Linked DNA regions of Homo sapiens. Changing the gene in region 1 together with any one later gene gives a genetic interaction. Each region holds a gene or a part of one and is shown on either strand. Other genes may lie near its edges.

Region 1 (7,990 bases):
AAATCCTTCCCGTTTCTAGGATGCAATCCAAGCTCTTTAATATGACATACAATAACCCTAACATGATTCCCAGCCTCTATTTACCTCTCCAGTCACTCCATGACTTAAATATTTATAGAACTTCGTGTTCTAAGTCAACAGTCACCTGATCATTCCACTTTTAAGACCATTTCCTCTATTTTGGCAGGAGTCGGGGGAGGAGGCTCTTTTCTGTGCTCCACATATGTCCTATACCTTGCCTGACATTGTCATATTCTTATATCCTCCACCCACACAGGATACTTCCTTTATACAGTTTATATTACTGTCACTAAATTTACTACACTGTATTATTGCCTATTTAATGATCTGTCTTTGAGCTAGATCAAGCTCTTGGAGAAGGGCCAATCATCTTTATATTAACAGTACCTAGCACAGTGCCTGGCACTTATTAAATGCTCAATAAACATCAGTTAAATGAATAAAATAACCAACAGGATATGTAGACTGCAAACTGTTTCCTTACACTGCCAAAGCTCCAACACTTAAGTCTTTCCATTGTTTCTTTTGCATTGTTTCCAAGACATTAGAATATATTAAATAAAATGCCTATTGTACGGCACCCAGGAATTTAGAGTACAGGTGGCTGCTAGTCCTGGTCCCTTCTCCCTCCTAAATACTATTGGCAGTTTGTGTCTTCTCTCAAACCAGAGAACCATATAGCTCCTCTATTTGCCGTATTTCATTCCTGAATTTCTTGTCTGCTATACATGCGAAACCTGCTAAATGCTTCTATTTATTCTTTGCATACCAAGTTTCTTTTCATTTTTCCTACATATCTTAGCTTTCTAGTGAAAGGCAAGTTATTACTCTTTGGAGGTCTCCTTTGTTTTCACATGTAGAAATTATCTCAGCAATGTCTTAGGTAACTTTTCATACATCCATCTGTTGATAGCTATTTGAGATCTTTACAGCTAAGGGCCTTGTTGCAGACCCAAAAGTTGTATTCTACAAAATCAAGGTTTAATTTGAAACGATTACTTGAACTTTGTTTTCATATGTATCACTGACAGTTCTAAGTACAGGAAAAATGAGTGTTGCATGTGTTTTAAAGGAGTGTTGGAAGCAAAACAGCTCCAGGTACAGCTTCCTCTGTAATATTAGTGCTCCAGTCCTACCTTTTAGTAACTTTGGTTTTAGAAACAAGCTGTGTGTGTGTGCTGGAAAATCTACCTAACACAAACCCAACTACAGAAAACTACAAACCACGCAGTCAATTCAGCACACATATACTCGCCTCGAGAAAATCATAAATTCAGTAACGTTCTTGCTTCATGAGCACTTTCTAAATATTCACTGAAGAACTGACCAAGTACGGCTGGTTCAATAGGGAGTTAGTAGGACTGTTCAAATCTACTTTTCAATGCGGTTTTTGGAAACTGAATACCCAGAGCATCAAAGTACGATGATCATAAAGCAAAACACACAACAAATCCCTAAATTTTAAAACCCAAAAATTCCTTTAGTTTGGGATTATTTATCCACATCTACTTTCATAGCCAGAAATACTTGAGAGCTGACATTTTCGGAAACACACTCTAACTCTAGTTTTCACTAAATATCCTTCATGGGAGCAACGCCAAAATAAAATCAACCCTTCAAGTGTCTTCTGAAGAAGCACAGTGTAAGGGAAACAACAAAACTGCACGTGTTTGCTACAGGAATAGAAAGCAAGTTAAAAAAGCGGTAGGCTTTGGGATGGTGATTACACAGGTGAATTCAAAGGTCAAAAAACTCATCGCACTGTACACTTAAGGTCTATGCTTTTTTTTTTTAACATCTCAAGGAAGGGGTGAGGGTGTAGGCTCAAGGGGAAAAAAGCAATCCCAACACCTTAACAACAGGAATACACTAAAGTGAAAATGCATTTTTCTGGCGGACCACCTAAAGTGTATGATTCCCGAGATTAGTTAAGTCCTGTCCCAAATTTGAGCTTCAATAGAATGCTTCTGGCCAGCTGTGATTCGCATCTCAAAGGTTAATTCCCTTCTCTCTCCTCCTCAAGCCGACCAGCAAACGCTCACCACCCTCCACATCTGCAGGCCGGCTCGCTCCCGGCCTCACAAGCCAACGCAGCTCTCCGACCTCACTCCGAACTCCACCCCTACTTCCGGGACACCACTCCTCTCTCGCGCCAAAATCGCCTTCTCTTAAACCCTTTCTGCTCAAGCCCTCGAATTTTCCATCCCGAACAACTTCTGGGTCTGTCCCACCCCAAGCTTTCCAAACGCCAAGCCTGCCCGCCCCGCCGCCGCCTCTCCGACCCGTTCCCGCGCCCGGTCCCCAGCCCCGGACCGTCCCCGCCATTCTCCCGGCCCGCACCGTCCCGCCCCGGCCCCACGCCCTCGCCCCGCGCCCTGCTCTCCGCACGCCCCGGTCCCTCCCCGCGCGGGCACTCACATTTTTCGCTGCCGCTCGAACTCCGCTTTCTTCTCCTCCTCCTCTCGCTTCTGCTTCTCGTCCAGGCTGCTGCGCTTGCTCACCGTGCGCCCGAAGATGTCGATGCGGTCGGGCGGGGACGAGGCGCGCTCCCGGTCCCGCTCGCGCCGGGACACGGCCGTGTTGGTGGAGCGCGAACGGGACCGCGACTCCCGCCGCCGGTTCCGTTTACTTTCCCGAGATTTGGAACGCTTCCGCACGCGCTCCTTGTCCCGGGATCGCGACCGGGACCGGCTGCGCTTCTTGTTGTGCTTGCTGCTCTTGGTGTGCTTGGAGCGGGACGAGCTCCGGCTCCGAGACCGGCCCATCCTTCCGGGAGACGCTCTAACCGCTCGCCTCAGGCCCCTCACGCGGCCAGTTCCCCTCGCCTCCGCCTTCGGACGCGGGCTGGCGGTTCTACCGAGGCCGGAGGAAAGAAAGGTGTCGGCCAACGGACTTTATGCCTTTTCCCGGCGTCTACAGCTGCCACGAAGGCCGCCTCCAACGAGAAACCCGTAGCGCCAGGCGCCCCTAAGATGGCAGCTGCGGCTGCACCGGCCGCCCTTCCCACAATGCCCTGCGCGAAACGTGCCGAAGCGTGGGCCCCGCCTCCTGACGATTTTTGCCGAAGGCAGGCGAGCGCTTCGGAGCGGACTCGTTTTTTTCCGCCAGTCTTGGCGGAAGCCTGAGACGCAATAGATGGAGACTCTCCTTTTCGCCTTGGCGTACTCTTTTTTTTTTTTTCCTCCCTGGTAAGATGCCAACGCCTGTTGAATGAATTAAGCACGTTTTAGTGGGATTTAAGTCCGGCCTCGCAGAAGTTGATTGATTGCATTATTTTCTAGGAGCTGGTCTTGTGGGGCAGCCCTAAAATGTATCTCCAAGTGACCCTGCACTCATCACTTGCTGCCTTGGACTTAGTTTCCTCATTCGTAGAATGGAGACACCACACTTTCTGAAGTGCTTATGAGACTTGCAGGAGGTAAGTAGGCAGCAGGTTTTGATGAATGTAACCTAATGCTTACTATAGGGCTTAATGTGCCTTCTAAATGCTTTAATGTATTAACAAGTGCTTAATTCTTACAATTCTGAATTAAGTACTACTATTATCCACGTTTCAGAGATGAGGACCCTGAGGTCCACAGAGGTTAAATAAGGGTCACACAACCAGTAGGTGACAGAGCAGGGACGTGAACCTAGATCATATTGTGCAAAGCCCTTGCACATAACCAGCAAGCCCTCCTCAACCCTAGCCACGAAAAGCTTCGTCCCTATGTGGCACAACAAACTGTGTCATTGTTAAGACCTAAAAGGAAAAGGCAATGTTAATATTTGCAGATGACAGGAACCCTTGAAAATCTAGGTGCCTCAATTTTAAAATTGAGTGCAATAATAAAGCTTAAGTAAGTAGAAGAAAAATTAGAATTATTTGAATAAGCAAAAACATATTAAAAATGAAATAATATTTCCTCCACAATGGCAACAGAAACCATAAAATACTTAGGGATAAACTTTAACAAGTTACACAATCTTTATTATAAACCTTTACTGAAAAGGCAGTAATAAGGCCCTAGTAAATGTAAAACATGCTGTATTCTTAGGTGAGTAGTCAGTATCAAAAATACTGTCAATTCTTCCCAAGTCAAATTACAAAATTAGTGCAATTCTCATGAGAGTCCCAAATTCTCTTGGGGATATGTGTTTTAGAACTAATTAATTTTAAGTTTTATATGGAAGATCACATAATTAATTATCAAGAAAACTTGGAAACAAAGAAGAGTAGTGTATTAGTCTGTGTTGACTGCTGTAACAAAATATCATAAACTAGGCAGCTTATGAACAACAAATTTATTTCTCACAGTTCTGAAAGTTGGAAATCCAGGATCCAGGTGCTAGCCAATCTGGTCGCTGGTGAGGACCCAGAGATTCACAGATGACTCACAGAAGGCACCTACTCACAGTGCCCTCACATGATAGAAGGGGAAAGCTAGCTCTCTGAGCTCTCTTTTAGTGGCACTTCTAGGGTCTGAAAGTTTGTGTTCCCTCAGATTCATATGTTGAAACCTAATCACCAGTGCAATAGTATTAAAAGGTGGGGCTTTGGGATATTGATTAGGTCATGAGGGCTCTAACCTCATAACTGGAATTAGTGCCTATCTCAGCCCATTTCCACTGCTATAACAGAATACTTTAGACTGAGTGATTTATAAATAATAGACATTATTTCTCAGAGTTCTGAAGGCTAAGAAGTCCAAGATAAAGGTACCAGCAGAGTCAGTGTCTGATAAGAGCTTGCTATCTGCTTCCAAGATAGTGCCTTGTTTTGCTGGGTCCACAGAAGGGGACGAACACTGTGTCCTCACATGAGGGAAGGGATGGGAGGCAAAAGGGCAAAAAAAAAGGGGGGGGAACTAGGACACTCCTGTCAACCTCTTTTGTAAGGATACTATTCCCATTCAAGAGGGTGGAGCCTCATTTCTTAATCACTTCCAAAACGGCTTCAGCTCTTAATGTTATTATAGTGGATTTTAGGCTCCAACATAGGAATTCTAGAGAGACACATACATTTAAGCCATAGCAATGCCCTTATAAAAGGGGCCCAAGGAAGCTTGTTCACCCGTTCTTTACCATGTGAAGACATAGAAAAAGGTGTCATCTATGAAGCAGAGAGTGAGGCCTCACCAGACACTGAATCTGCCAGTGCCTTAATCTTGGACTCCCAGCTTCCAGAACTCTGAGCGATAAATTTCTGCTGTTTATAAATGACCCAGTCTGAGGTAGTCTTATAGTAGGCTGAATGGACTAAGATAGGAACTAATCCAATTCATGAGGGCAGAGCCAGCAGCCTCACCTCCTAATACCATCGTCTCCCAGCTGCCCCGCCTCCTAATACCATCGTCTCCCGGCAGCCCCGCCTCCTAATACCATCGTCTCCCGGCAGCCCCGCCTCCTAATACCATCCTGTCCCAGCAGCTCCACTTCCTCATACCATCATGTCCCAGCAGCCCCACCTCCTCATACCGTCATCTCCCAGCAGCCCCACCTCCTCATACCGTCATCTCCCAGCAGCCCCACCTCCTCATACCATAATGTTCCAGCAGCCCCACCTCCTAATACCTTTGTCTCCTATCAGCCCCACCTCCTAATACCATCGTGTTCCAGCGGCTCCACCTCCTAATACCGTCATCTTCCAGCAGCCCCACCTCCTAATACCATTACATTGGTGATTAGATTTCAACATCTGGGTTTGGGAGGGCACACAAACATTTAGACCGTAGCAAACAGTACCTGTTTGCCCTACACAAAATTGAATAAACTGAACAACAAGATTTTAGGACAGAAATAGGAAAACAGTGCAATAGAAGGATAGATCTATTCTTTTACTTCAGATACGTTCAAGTAAAATCACATTTAATATAGAATGTATAGAATTACCCCCATTATAGTAGAAATATTTCTGTCAATCTAACCATCTGTCTGTACGTATCTGTACCTATCTATCCAGTGGGAATGATATATATGGTTTATATATCCATATATGGTGTGAATATATGATATGATGTATAGATATATCTGGAATTTTGTTTATATATATGTATATTACATATATATATAATCCAGAATGATGTCTGTTTAATGATAAAGATAGTTATTTCCAATGAGTTAGTGTATAAATTTTCTAGAGCTGCCCCGACAAATTACCACAGACTGATGTCTTAAATGAACAGAAATGTATTCACTTACAGTTCTGGAGTCCAGCAGTCCAAAATCAAATGTCAGCAAAGTTGGTTCCTTTGGAGGCTCTGGAGAAGAATCTGTTCACTGCCTCTCACTTAGCTCCTGGTGCTTGCTGGCATTCCTTGGCTTTTAGTCCCTGTCTCCATCTTTACTGTACGTCTGTCCTCTTCTTATAAGACCACTGGAGATTGGATGTAGAGGTATAGGGGATTATGGAGCTTTTAAAAGAGGATGATATTGGGGCGGGCGTGGTGGCTCATGCCTGTAATCCCAGCACTTTGGGAGGCTGAGGCGGGTGGATCACAAAGTCAAGAGTTCAAGACCAGCCTGGTCAAGATGGTGAAACCCCGTCTCTACTAAAAATACAAAAGTTAGCCAGGCGTGGTGGCGGGTGCCTGTAATCCCAGCTACTCAGGAGGCTGAGGCAGAGAATTGCTTGAACCCAGGAGGCAGAGGTTGCAGTGAGCTAAGATCGGGCTACTGCACTCTAGCCTAAGTGACAGAGCAAGACTCTGTCTAAAAAAAAAAAGATGATATTTACCCTGCTCAGGCTCTGGCCATGTCTTTTGGCTGCTGCCAGGAAAAAAAAAAAAAAAAAAAAAAAGGAAAAAGTGCATGAAAGCCCTTAATTTACCAGGGATCATCTCTGAGGATGCATTGAAGGAATGAGGAACACACACATTTTATGCCTGCATTTTATAGTATAATTATCAAAATCTTGACATTTCACACTCCCTGAACTCACCTTATTTTCTCATGTATTTCTTTATTGACTATTTTTTGCCACCAGAATCCAAATTCTCGGCATCTTGACTGTTTTGTGTCCACTGACACCCTATGGGTTAGCTAACCTCGATAAATATATGCCGAATACACCTTGAAAGAAGAGAATTGCATGGTTTTTTATCCTAAGTATAAGTTTGGCTTCATTTGTTTTGTTTTGTTTTGTTTTGTTTTCAGACTCTTAAAATTTTTAGTTGCCTCCCTTCCTCCATTCCCTTCTCCAATAAAAGCATTTTCTCAGTTCATGTTTGAATAATTAGGATAGCCAAATATAAATAACACATCATTCAAATCCAGATCATTCCAAAGAACAATTTAATGTAAAAAATAGGAGATGCATGAATGTATCTTTCCTCCTTAATATGGTTTGGCTGTTTTCCCAACCAAAATCTCATTTTGAATTGTAATCCCCATAAACCCCATGTGTCAAGGGAGAGACCAGGTGGAGGTAATTGAATCATGGGGGTGGTTTCCGCATGCTGTTGTCATGATGGTGAGTGAGTTCTCATGAGATCTGATGGTTTTATAAGTGGTAGTTCCTCCTGGGTTCATTTCTTCTTCCTGCCACCTTGTAAAGAAGGTGCCTTGCTTTCCCTTCACCTTGGGCCATGATTGTAAGTCTCCTGAGGCCTCCTCAGCCATGCTGAAATGTGAGTCAATTAAACCTCTTTCCTTTATAAATTACCCAGTCTCGGGCAGTTCTTTATAGTAGTGTGAAAACAGACTAATATACTCCTAATTCTTAAATTACTGATCCTAATTCTTAAATTAAATTGATCCTCAATTGTTTTTGCCAACTTTTCAAAGTTTGAGATGTATTTTACAACATGCCCATGAAGCGTCGTAAGTATTGATTGCCTTGTTAATGGAAAATACCATCTTAGTTGCTCAGAGAGTTATGTCTACACTTACAGTGCAGGTGGAGTCCTTGGGCACCATGGTCCCACTCTCTCTATAGTGTTGTTTCTTAGAATCTCACCTACCTAACTTTTCCTGAGCTGTCTGACACCCA
Region 2 (7,000 bases), on another chromosome or scaffold:
AGGTAATGTAAATGAGTTAATTGAGTCCCATGGGAATGTATTAGGATTAGTGGGGACTGTTGTGTACTGGACAACCCATGCCTTTATTTTTTTTTTGTCTTTAATTTTAATTTCTTTTTATTGAGACAGGGTCTTGCTCTGTCACCCCGGCTGGAGTGCAGAGGAACGATCACAGCTCACTGCAGCCTTGACCTCTGGGCTCAAGTGATCTTCCTACCTCAGCCTCCCAAGTAGCGGGGAACACAGATGTGCGCCATCATGCCCAGCTAATTTTTTAATATTTTGTAGAGACAAGGTCTCACTGTATTGCTCAGGCTGGTTTCGAACTCCTAGACTCAAGCAGTCCTCCCACTTTTGCCTCCCAAAGTGCTGGGATTTTAGGAATGAACCACCATGCTCAACCCATTCCTTTATTTAGAAGAGCCAACTGCTCCTTTTTCAGCAGATTGTTACTGTTTTAGAGTGCAGGCACAGAATGACCACTCTTTCTATTTTTCAGGAGAAACTGGAAATTTAGATCATTGTGTTTTCTAATTGTTGGAAACTAGTTAAAAGTATTTTTAAGCCTTTTTCAGGCCAAAGAAAATATGTCTGTGGACTGGATTCTGCCCAATGGTTACTGGATGATGACCCTCAATAAACAAAATGGGCAGGCCTTATGAGACTTAATCACTGCAGTTCTCTATACATAATCACATAGACTTTTTTTCTTTGTCCTACTCTGCCAGCTGTCACCTTTGTACCTTGGGTGCCCTGAGTGGCTAAAAGATGGAGTGAGATAGAGAAGGTTTGTTTTATTTTTCATCTCCAAGCTGGCAGAAGGGACAGCTTTGGACATATTAGTAGCTTACCTTGTAAACGGTTTTTGAGATACTCTCAGAATCTCCACAGGGGGAGGAGATGGCATGCTAGAGCTGAGGTACCCTGGTCACCCGATTATCAGGTCTGGGAGGATTTTCCAGTGATGCATTGTCAGGGCACCAGCTTTTTTCCCAGTTTAACCTTCTTTTACTTCCACCCTTTAAGTAAATTTCTTGAGCTCAGTAAGTTGTTTCCTAGTTTAGTAACTTTGGTTATTCTCAATAAAGCACAGAACTATGATGTGTTCCTAGGCCAGCTCTGGAAATGTTAAAAGCTCTGCATCTTTAGTGTTTCTCTGGCTTTTTTTTTTTTTTTCTCTGATGGAGTCTTGCTCTGTTGCCCAGGCTGGAGTGCAGTGGTGTGATCTTGGCTCACTGCAACCTCCGCCTCCTGGGTTCAAGCAATTCTCCTGCCTTAGCCTCCCAAGTAGCTGGGACTACAGGTGCACGCCACCACACCCAGCTAATTTTTGTATTTTTAATAGAGATGTGGTTTCACCATATTGGCCAGGCTGGTCTTGAACTCTTGACTTCGTGATCCGCCCACCTCGGCCTCCCAAAGTGCTGGGATTATAGGTGTGAGCCAATGCGCCCAGCCTTCTCTGGCTTTTAAAGGTATTGAGTGAACATAAACCTTAGAAGGGCCTATTGCTGGTCCTTTAGCTCCCTACTACCATCTACCTTTTCAGAAAGTCCATCAGTTTTTCTTGGTTTGCCCAGCTCTGTATTAGACACAAAGGCATCATGAAAAAGAAAAACAAAATTGCGCTTTTGCCTTTGGAGAATTTATTTGCTAGTTGGATAAGAATAATTTTTTTTTGAGACAGAGTCTCTCTCTGCCACCCAAGCTGGAATGCAGTGGTGTGAGATCTCGGCTCACTGCAACCTTTGCCTCTCAGGCTGAAGTGATCCTCCCATCTCAGCCTCCTGAGTAGCTGGGACTATAGGTGCGTGCCACCACGCCTGCCTGATTTTTGTGTTTTTTGTAGACACAGGATTTTACTATGTTGCCCAGAGTCCAGTGGTGTCATCATAGCCCATTGCAGCCTTGATTTTTTTTGGCTCAACTGATCCTCCTACCTTAGGCTCCCTAGTGGCTGGAACTACAGGCATGTATCACTATGTCCCACTAATTTTTTTTTTTTTTTTTTTAATTTATGTTGCCTAGGCTGGTCTCTGACTCCTGAGCTCAACCATTCCTCCTGCTTTGGCCTCCTAAAGTGCTGGGATTAAAGATGAGAGCTACTGCACCTGGCCAAGGAAATGTTTAAAAGTGATTAAGAGGCCGGGCGTGGTAGCTCATGCCTGTAATGCCAGCACTTTGGGAAGTCAAGGGAGGCAGATCACCTGAGGTCAGGAGTTAAAGGCCAGCCTGGCCAACATGGTGAAACGCTGTCTCTACTAAAAATATAAAAATTAGCTAGGCGTGGTTGTGGGCGCCTGTAATCCCAGCTACTCGGGAGGCTGAGGCAGGAGAATCACTTGAACCCTGGAGGTGGAGGTTGCAGTGAGCCGAGATTGCGCCACTGCACTCCAGCCTAGACGACAAGAGCGAAACTCTGTCTCAAAACAAACAACCAAACAAACACAAAACCAAACCCCATAAAAGTGATTAAGAAAAAAAAAAAAACCACTTAAACACTAGTGTACTAAAAACAGCTATTTAGAGCCAAAGAAAATAAGGCATATATGAAGAATTGACAGTTACATTAAAAATTATATATTTCACAAAAATGTGAATGTGCAAATAACACTTAAGGAGATGTCAGGAAGATAGACGTGAAAAAAGAAGCATTATGATATGGCTGGTAGGTAAATGTGGGTTCTTTTTACCTGTATGGAAGGTTTGTAACTTCTGGTAGAGAAGCAAATATATATTATCAAAAAAAGGTTTGCCAGTGTGGCTCAGAGTTATTGTCTTCTATGAAGTCATTTTTCTCATGAGGTGGATGTGTGCTGTACCACTCTTGAAGAGTCAGTCTTGATGTTATTTCATTTGTTCATCTAGTATTTATTGATCATTTTTCTTACTATGTGTCAGGCTTTGGAGATAAAAGGGTAAATAAATCATGGTCTTTCCCCCTGAGATAGAGCCTGATAGTCCCATGGTGGTGATACACTAAATAAATAATTATAAATTAGTATAAGATGTGTTTATTTTTATTTTCATTTATTTATTTGAGGCAGAGTCTCACTCTGTCACCCAGGCTGGAGTACAGTGGCACGATCATACCGCAAGGCAACCTGGAACTCCTGGGCTCAAGTGATCCTCCTGCCTTAGCCTCCCAAGTAGCTGGGACAACAGGTGTGCGCCACCACACCTGGCCAATTTTTCTTTATGTTTTGTAGAGACAGGGTCTCGCCATGTTGCCTAAGCTGGTCTTGAACTTCTAGGCTCAACTGATGCTCCCTCCTTGGCCTCCCAAAGTGCTGGGATCACAGACATCAGCCACTGTCCCCAGCCAAGATATGTTTAGAGATAACTACAAAGTGCTGTGGGTGGCCGGGCATGGTAGTTCATGCCTATAATCCCAGCACTTTGAGAGGCCGAGGCAGGCAGATCACTTGAGGTCAGGAGTTTGAGACCAGGAGTTTGAGACCAGCCTGGCCAACATGGTGAAACCCCAACTCTACTAAAAATACTCTGCTAAAAAAGTGGAAAAAAGGGCTGGGCGCAGTGGCTCACACCTGTAATCCCAGCACTTTGGGAGGCCGAGGTGGGCAGATCACCTGAGGCCGGGAGTTTGAGACCAGCCTGACCAACACGGAGAAACCTCATCTCTACTAAAAATACAAAATTGGCCCGGCATGGTGGCGCATGAATGTAATCCCAGCTGCTGGGAGGTTGAGGCAGGAGAATCGCTTAAACCTGGGAGGCAGAGGTTACGGTGAGCCGAGATTGTGCCATTGCACTCCAGCCTGGGCAACAAGGGGGAAACGCTGTCTCAAAAAAAAAAAAAAAGTGGAAAAATAAATAAATAAATAAATAAGTGGTTTTAAGATTGTTCTTAGAACCACTGTGATATTCTGACTCCCTCATTGACTTTTGGATGGAATGAGTAAGGGTTTATCAGGTGGACAAGAGTGAGAAAAAACATTCAGAATAGAAAGGGAGCTTCATATGCAAAGGCAAAGAGGCAGCAAAGACCATGACTTTAAAAAGTAGGAATGATGTGGCGTGGTGGCCCACACCTATAATCCCAGCATTTTGGGAGGCCAAGGCAGGCAGATTGCTTTGAGCTCTGGAGTTTGAGACCAGCCTGGGCAACATGGCAAAATGTTGTCTCTACAAAAAATACAAAAAAATTAGCCAGGCATGGTGACTCATGCCTGTAGTTCCAGCTACTTGGGAGGCTGAGGTGGGAGGATCGCTTGAGCCTGGGAAGCAGATATTGCAGTGAGTCAAGATTGTACCACTGCACTCCAGCCTGGGCGACAGAATGAGACCCTGTTTCAAAAAAAAAAAAGGAACTTTTTAACTTTTTAGGGTCTTTTATTTTATTTTATTATTATTATTTTTTGAGCCGGTGTCTTGCTCTGCTGCCCAGGCTGGAGACCAGTGATGCAATCTTGGCTTACTGCAACCTCCACCTCCTGGGTTCAAGCAATCCTCCTGCCTCAGCCTCCTGAGTAGCTGGGATTACAGGCCCCTGCCATCATGCCCAGCTAATTTTTGTATTTTTAGTAGAGTGGGGGTTTCACCATGCTGGCCAGGCTGGTCTCAAACTCCTGACCTCAGTTGATCTGCCTGCTTTGGCCTCCCAAAGTGCTGGGATTACAAGCATGAGCCACTGCCCCCAGCCGAGGGGCTATTTTAGACAAAGAATATGTGTAGCTTATATGGGGCACCAATGGCTGCCACCCAGCTTGAAAAATAACATCACCAAAACTGAGGCTGCATGTATGTATGCCCTTCCCTGTTAGTTCCCCCACACTCCCTGCCGCTTGCCACTATTCTCAATTTTTTTGTGTGAGCTTCTCTGGGGTATAGTCCTAGAAGTGGAATTGCTGAAATATAGGATATGAAGTGCTTTAGCTTTGTAAGATAATGCCAAATTGTTATTCAAATTCATATTAATTTAGATACATACCAGCCACTTGGTCTGCATTTTTTACCAACTTAAAAACAATTTTTTTTTTGAGACAGGGTCTTACTCTGTTGTCCAGGCTGGAGTACAGTGGTGTGATCGTGGCTCACTGCAGCCTTGACCTCCTAGGCTCAAGTGATCCTCCCACTTCAGCCTCTCAAGTAGCTGGGACTACAGGCACATGCCACCATGCCCTACTAATTTTTAAATTTTTTGTAGAGATGGAGTTTTGCTATGATGCCCAGGCTGTTCTCAAACTCCTTGGCTCAAGTGATCCTCCTGCATCGGCCTCCTAAAATGCTGGATTATAGGCGTGAGCACCTGGCCTTTTAAGTATTATCAGATTTAAAGTGTTTTGCTATTTCAGGAATGTAAAGTGGTATATCATTATAATCTTATTTTGTAATTTTCCTGATTATTAATGAAGCTAATAATCTTTTCATATATTTATTTGCTGTTTATGTTTCCTATTCTGTGAAACACCTATTCATCTCTGTTGCCAATTTTGGGGAGGGGTTATATGTCTAGTTCTTATAGTTTTGTAGCAGTTATTGTATACTCTGGATATTACTCCTTTATATTAGTTATATGTGCCTCAAATATTTTCTTCTGGTTTGTGCCTTATCTTTTCCCTCTTTTTTATGTTGTCTTTTGAACAGGCATTTTTAATTTTAACATGGTTGAATTCACCAATTTTTTAAAGAGGTTTTGCTTTTTGTTTCTTGTTTAGGTACTTCTCCCTTATGCTGAGTTTATAAAAATACTCTCCTGTAGCCAGGTGCTGTGGCACACACCTGTTGTCCCAGCTACCCAAGAGGCTGTTGTGGAAGGATTGCTTGAGCCTAGGAGTTTGAGTCCAGCCTGGGCAACATGGCAAGACCCTATCTCTAAAAAAAAATCAAAAAGAAAATATTCTCATATATTAGCTTCTAAGAGATTTCAAGTTTTGCTTTTCATATTTAAATAACCTGAGATATATTTTTGGTATTCCATTAAATAAGAATACAATTTATTGTTTCTTTTTCTCCTGCTTTTGTTGGATATAGACAGAGTTGCCAAGTGATACAGTGACTCCTCTTTGGATCCTGTTGAGGTAACTGGGATGCCACAAAGCACTAGGGGAATGTTCTAGACCCAGCTTTAAATGGACAGTGGTTTCAAGGGTACATGTTACTCAGAGTCTCTGGGCCAGTGGCTTATCTGGCTAAGGGTGTTAGTTGGTATTTATTTAGTTGTTCCCTCTCTTATTTATTTTTTTCTATTAATTTTTCATTTGTGTGGGTACATAATGAATGTATTTCTCTTGTTATTTCTGACACAAGATAAATCTTAAGTTCGTTTCTACTATACTTTTATGAGGTTTCTGCAGGCCTTTATGACCTTGTGACAAGGGATTTCTTGGCCATTGGCTACCAGGCAGCAAGTGGTTCATCAGTTTCCCATCTGAAGCTGAAGGGCACAACTGTTTGGAGATTCCCTGAGTGAGGGGACATACTCAGAGACCTAGAAGGAGATTAGGCAGCTCTGCATAGTACTTGAAAATAATTCCTCTTCATTCCCTAGATGTTTCTTTTTTTTTGAGACAGAGTCTCACTCTGTTGCCCAGGTTGGAATGCAGTGGCGCGATCTCGGCTCACTGTAACCTCCACCTCCTGGGTTCAAGTGATTCTCCTGCCTCAGCCTCCCAAGCAGCTGGGATTACAGGTGTGTGTCACCACACCTGGCTAATTTTTGTATTTTTAGTTGAGGTGGCGTTTCACCATGTTGGCCAGGCTGGTCTTGAACTCCCAACCTCAGGTGATCTGCCCACCTCAGCCTCCCAGAGTGCTGGGATTATAGGCGTGAACCACTGCGCCCAGCCCTAGATGTTTCTTTTTTACAATGATTTTTTGCTTAGACCTTTGCTGTCTTAGAAAGTGGTTACTTCTTTTCTAAAGGGCTTATTCATTTTTAGTCAATCAGCTGATTAAAATTTAAAAGTAGTTAATAGGTAATATATGTTTGTGACACAAAATTCAAAAGGTAAAAAAGAATATACAGAGAAAAGTTAGT

Evidence for each region.
Region 2: changes in ARGLU1 (region 1) and GBF1 together harm fitness more than expected from each alone (negative genetic interaction), as found in Homo sapiens cells (one study listed by BioGRID).

What each region holds. Positions count from the first base shown.
Region 1 is NC_000013.11:106,565,134-106,573,123, forward strand, and holds the start of ARGLU1 (arginine and glutamate-rich protein 1), read right to left. Parts: upstream 3,005-7,990; 5' UTR 2,787-3,004; coding exon 2,440-2,786; intron 1-2,439. UniProt on the Homo sapiens protein: Dual function regulator of gene expression; regulator of transcription and modulator of alternative splicing. General coactivator of nuclear receptor-induced gene expression, including genes activated by the glucocorticoid receptor NR3C1.
Region 2 is NC_000010.11:102,248,532-102,255,531, forward strand, and holds part of GBF1 (Golgi-specific brefeldin A-resistance guanine nucleotide exchange factor 1), read left to right. Parts: intron 1-7,000. UniProt on the Homo sapiens protein: Guanine-nucleotide exchange factor (GEF) for members of the Arf family of small GTPases involved in trafficking in the early secretory pathway; its GEF activity initiates the coating of nascent vesicles via the localized generation of activated ARFs through replacement of GDP with GTP.